Linked DNA regions of Homo sapiens: region 1 is linked to region 2. Evidence: fine-mapped expression QTL. Tissue or cell type: prefrontal cortex. Region 2 holds a variant in brackets; the other region holds the start of a gene. All regions are shown on one strand. Distances are from middle to middle.

Region 1 (2,771 bases), 200 kb after region 2:
AAGGGATTTTACAAATGTCAGTGTAAGCTCTTGCTACTGCTTCTCTCTGCATGTCTATTCTAGGTTGCTCTTGTAGGCTGGCTCCACATGTAAGGATTTTACTTTGGGTTCCCTCATAATTTAATGTTCATGTAGCTGAAGCTTGCCATAGAGGTCTCACACTAAATACCTGTGACCCGACAACTCCAATTCTCATCACTTAACTATGACTTTTGTGTCTCAGTGAAATTTTTTCAAACAATATCATCTAGTTGGCTTGGCCTAACCTATGGATCGACTCTCAGAGTAGGTCTCCCCACCCTGGTCCAATCATCATAACCAGGGAGTAGGGTCATATGATATAAACATAGATGACTAGGCCCATCTGTTCAGCAGGGGAACAGATTCTTTTAGAAGGGAATGTGGGCAGAAAGGCAATTATATACATCTCTAACCAGAAAAATCCCAGGGGTGGAAATGATAGGAAGAAATGGCACCAAATTTAAAGATAAAAGAAAAGCTGCCACTGTAATTCAAAATTAGACAATGTAACTGATCATAGACTTTTGCTATAATCGCTATTTTGGCCTTATAATCTCTGAAATTTACTTTACAGAACAGTGAAACACTTCTTTGAGGAGAAACATTATAGAAGAAAACAATCTTTGATCTAGAAACCTAAAAAGATATTTATGCTCATTATATTCCAGGTGCTGAAGAGTGTCAAAGCACAGCTAAATATTATGCCATTTGTGCAGACTCGGAATGAGTTTAAGCACTGAAAGAGCTACCAGAATACCCCAGCAGAACATCTCAAAACAAAGCATTATTTCTCTCTTAAGAAAATTACCAGGCTGGGCACGGTGGCTCACACCTGTAATCTCAGCACTTTGGGAGGACGAGGCAGGCGGATCTACCTGAGGTGAGGGGTTCGAGACCAGCCTGCCCAATGCGGTGAAACCCCGTCTCTACTAAAACTAAAAAAAATAGCTGGGTGTGGTGGCGGGCACCTGTAATCCCAGCTACTCAGGAGGCTGAAGCAGGGAGAATTGCAGTGAGCCGGATTGCACCACTGCACTCCAGCCTGGGCGACAGAGTGAGACTCCATCTCAAAAAAAAAAAGGGAAAATTACCTATTTGCACTTCTTGATTTCCAGGAAGGTGTTAGAGATCTTCATCCCATCCCCAGCCCAAGTCTAGACGTGTTCACCGGAAAGGAAGAAGTTTTTGAGTTCTCAGCAGTAGCTGTGGCTCTAAGGAAAGCAGTGTTGTATGGGTATTAGAGTAGTACAACCAAAGCTCTGCTGGAACAAAAGAGGAACACAGAAAGCTAGGAATGACAAGTGTTTTTCTTCCCTCTCATATGATTCAGTCAGGCTGTCTTTGACCTACATAGCCATCTGACTGGCCACTGTTTTCTTTTCTTTCTTTTCTTTTTTTAGAGATGGGATCTTGCTGTGTTGCCCAGGCTGGACTGAAACTCCTGGGTTCCAGTGATGCTCTCTCCTGAGCTTCCCGAGCAGCTGGGACCACAGGCATACACCACTGCACTGCACTGCACTTGATTAGGTATATTTTAAAATGTAAAATAATAGTGAAAGGATTCTCCCTAGTCCCCATAAACCTGGGAATGGATCGAGGTGAGGACACCAAAACTTTCCCCTGAGACATGGAAATTGCACTGAATGTTTCTTGATGGTTCTAATGCATTAAGAATTAAGAGCTCTTTGCCTAGATTACCCCCAAAATATTAAAAATAACAAAACAAAGTAGAACTAAGGAAAAATATAAGACACATAGAGAAAATGTTTTTCAAAAAATGTTATTTGACCTATGGCTAATTCTGATTTTAAAAGCAGTTAAACAAACGAAACACAACCTAGTGATGCTTACGACTGAAGAAACCATTGATACCTGAAAGAAGGGAAGACTTTAGATATAAAGGCAGAGTGGAATTTTTTTAACCAACATTTCATGCAGCAGCTCCACATGGCCTTCCCATGTCTCAATAGCTTTGATTTGTGGAAATAATGGTTATGCAATTTCCACATATTGTGCTCCAATCACAGCATGTAAGCAACAATAAAAAGAAAACAACTAAATGTACTTGAAGCTGGAGATTTTGATAAGGTTTTCTTTTCACTTCACAAAGTTTGTTAACTGGATATTTTTCTAAGGCAACTGAAATATTCCTGCTGAGTTTCAGACAGATATATGTAAAAGCAGCAAAGTGTCTGATTTTCTTAAATGTATCTATGGCAGCAACACTAGTTAATTTAGTTGTGAAAAAATAACCAAAAAGAAACTATCGGACTATAAGAATTCCACAGTTGGCAGACTGTTGGTATTTCTCTTTCTCTTTAAATATATATATAAATATATCTATAAATATATATAAATATCTATAAATATATCTATAAATATATATATTAAATATATATATGCCATCTGTTTACAAAAGATGAGAAATGTTGGAGAAAATTATTTCCCTTAGGGTATAATGTTATGGCCATTCAGAGAGAGGTCTCTGGTATTTTCAAGGAGAATTTGGTACAAGAACAAGACAGCATCAGGTCTGCACAGTCATTGGCTGCAAAAAACAAAGATGATTTCCTTTAGTCCCTGTTTTAGTTTTACTCTTTGAACTTCCAAGTTTATTTATTGTTATTATTTTTAATGTGGCACAGATTGTTTTAAGAATCAACTTGGTTCCCTTTTTTGAAGTCCTTTTTTTTTTTTAATTTGTTGAGACTGGTTTCTAAAGTGCTCCACCTCCACCACCTGTCATTAGA
Region 2 (2,771 bases):
GATTATAAGTTTTCTTATCATATGCTAAATATGGGGTGGATTATAAGTTTTCTAGGAAAGGGGTAGGTATTTCCTGGAACTGAGGGTTCCTTCCCCTTTTTAGACCGTATAGGGTAACTTCCCGAGGTGGCTATGGCATTTGTAAACTGTCATGGCACTGGTGGGAGTGTCTTTTAGCATGCTAATGTATTATAATTACCATATAACAAGCAGCGAGGATGACCAGAGGTCACTTTCCACACCATCTTGGTTTTGGTGGGTTTTGGCTGGCTTCTTTACTGCATCCTGTTTTATCAGCAGGGTCTTTATGACCTGTATCTTGTGATACCAGTCCTGTTGACCTCCTAGCTCATCCTGTGATTGAGAATGCCTAACCTCCTGGGAACGCAGCCCATCAGGTCTCATCCTTATTTTACCCAGCCCCTATTCAAGATGGAGTCACTCTGGTTCATTTGAACTCTGACAACACCACTAAGAACCATTATAGGGATGCTTCAGTCTTCAAATTTTTCTGAGGTAGTTTTGGATGTAGTTAGAAATTAATCCTATGAGAGGGTAATAGAAAGCCAAGGCTCAAAGTTTTGAATCATCTATGGGCCAGTTGGCATCACTGTATGAACTGCATTCATAGTTTCTACCAGTTCCTGATTATAAAGGGAACCATTCATTGATTCACTCATTCATTAAATTAATATTTGAGGATCTAAGCATGTGAGAGAATAGATGGCTGAGCAAAAATCTAACACTTCTTGAAATTTTTAAATCAGAGGCATTTGATTTCATGAAAAATTAATTACATGCCTATTGTGCATTGAGACCTATGCTGTTAAGCTGATTGGCAAACCACTGATTTTAATGTAATTAGATAAAGCTTATGATAGATATATGCAAATGATGCTACTGAAAGGTAAAGTAAGAAGCAGGCAACTGCTCTATGAGGACACAGAAATATTTTTGTTGTTGTTATTGTCATTTATTTCTGTGTGTGTTTAATCTTGTGTTATTACATTCTAAGCACTGTACTAAGTATTTTTTGGGAATTCTGGTTTAATATTTACAGCATCCTAGGAAGTGAGCATTCATTTTCTCTACTTCAGCCTTACATGTGTGGAGGGAGAGGATGGGAGTGGGGAGAATGGCGGGACATTAAAGTTGGCCAGGTAAGAAGAGCCAGGCAATAAATGGTTTTATAGCGTAAGTAACTTGAAGGCAGGAACTACCAGAGAATTTTTATGCAGAATAGTAACATGGTCTCCTTTCATGTTACGAACAGCATTCAGCCTTTGCATTAGATTTGTGGGCATATGCCCTCAGCAGCTTTCTTGAAAGAAGTTCTGCTAGGTCATAAACATTAGACATTATAAAAGTGTTCTCCACAGCTGTTACAGAATAAGTTACATAAAGAATCAGAGGGAGCCCTGATTAAGATAACCTTGCCAAAGCAAGGTAGCGTGTGCAACCATCATATCAATAGCTCCAGAAGCACTGTTTGAAGGCATGGCTCATTCATTCCATGGCGTTGTTTTTCTCCT[G/C]TTGGTACTTTATAGGGATATGAAAATTAGTGATTATCTGTAAAATACATTATCAATTTATTCCTGATAAATGTGATAAAGTTGTTCATTTGCTGTACCCAGAGAATGAAACAGAGTTGTACCAAGGTTAAGCATTAAGTATTATAAAAGAAGAACACACACACAATCTTCTGTGAACACACACAACCTCCTGCCAACACACACAACCAGGAAGTTCTGCTTGATCTAATAAATGTGGATTCTGTGTTTTATATTGTTATAATCAGAATATACTAATATCAGCTTCCCTGGACACACTGAGTAATATGCCATGGCTATAGTGGAGTGGTTATCATTCTAGCTACAGACTAGAATCTCTGAGCAGCTTTTTAAGAATATTCACTTTTAGATCTCACCCCAGACTAATTCTTTCAGAATTTTTCTAGGCCAGTCCCAGTATTGGTATTTTTTTAAAGGTCTCCAGTTGATCTGTTACGTAACTGGGGCTGAGAACTGCAAACTCTTAGGGGATGCATAAGGCTGCATGAGTGGCTGAGTGTGGTGTGGCGAATTTCAGTTCTTTCCAGGGTAAAGACCTTCTTTAGGCCTTTGGGATTTTTAATGTAATCAAAACAAATTACTTGTTTGATTGTCTCAGCATACCTGTGAGGACATCTGTAAAGGCGAAGATCAAACTGATGAAGAAACTGTCAAGAAATGCTGTTGAATCTCAGGTACTATCGTTGGCCCATTTTAACAATTTTAAGGAATCAGGTTTTGAAATTTGGTCCACAAAGAATTATGTATTTACTCATACATTTTACCCGCAAATAGTATATGTTACCTCCAAAGGAGCAATGCTGGTTGAATTATTTATAAAATGATAAGCTTCTCAAGGAAGCTATTAAGAGAGAGAAACCAGGGCCTTTTTCCTACACAGTGATGGTTAATAAATCAAAATAGACACTTTGTTAATATGGCTAAATATAATAACAATACTGACAACTATAAAAGTCAAATTATTACAGAAAACAAAACTAAGTATCATATAATGCCTTTCTTATTGATCTGAGCAGTTCCAGTCAACCCTTACTAAAACTATTTTTATTAGAAGATTTAAGGGTTATGCTTTTATTGTTTTCAACTCATCTTGAATCTTTCAAGCTGGAGATTAACTCCCTAGGGACTACTTCTGACTGTGACGCTTTCAGGACAACATAGTTCAGCCACCTAGAGATTATCGACATGTCGCAAATAAGA

Which allele goes with the higher level. Positions count from the first base shown, and alleles are read on the strand shown. Sizes are in standard deviations (SD) of each study's normalised expression.
For the expression in prefrontal cortex of the gene that starts at base 1,282 in region 1, C is the high allele of the variant in region 2 and G is the other (large effect, 1.7 SD a copy in BrainSeq).

What was found. PIP is the estimated chance that this variant, and not a neighbour inherited with it, causes the effect.
Region 1: LINC01827 starts here. The variant in region 2 is fine-mapped to the expression of LINC01827 in prefrontal cortex (BrainSeq, PIP 0.95).

The regions. Positions count from the first base shown.
Region 1 is chr2:195,573,212-195,575,982 of GRCh38, forward strand. LINC01827 (long intergenic non-protein coding RNA 1827) reads right to left here and starts at 1,282. Exons shown (of 2, transcript NR_187191.1): 1 at 1,113-1,282.
Region 2 is chr2:195,368,984-195,371,754 of GRCh38, forward strand. The region is part of intron 1 of LOC105376755 (a long non-coding RNA gene); the gene reads right to left. It overlaps LOC105373817 (a long non-coding RNA gene), which reads left to right. Exons shown (of 3, transcript XR_923733.3): 3 at 2,170-2,592. Among named protein-coding and RNA genes, the nearest start is that of LINC01825, 160 kb to the right of the region's middle. The variant G/C (reference allele first, on the strand shown) is at 1,533.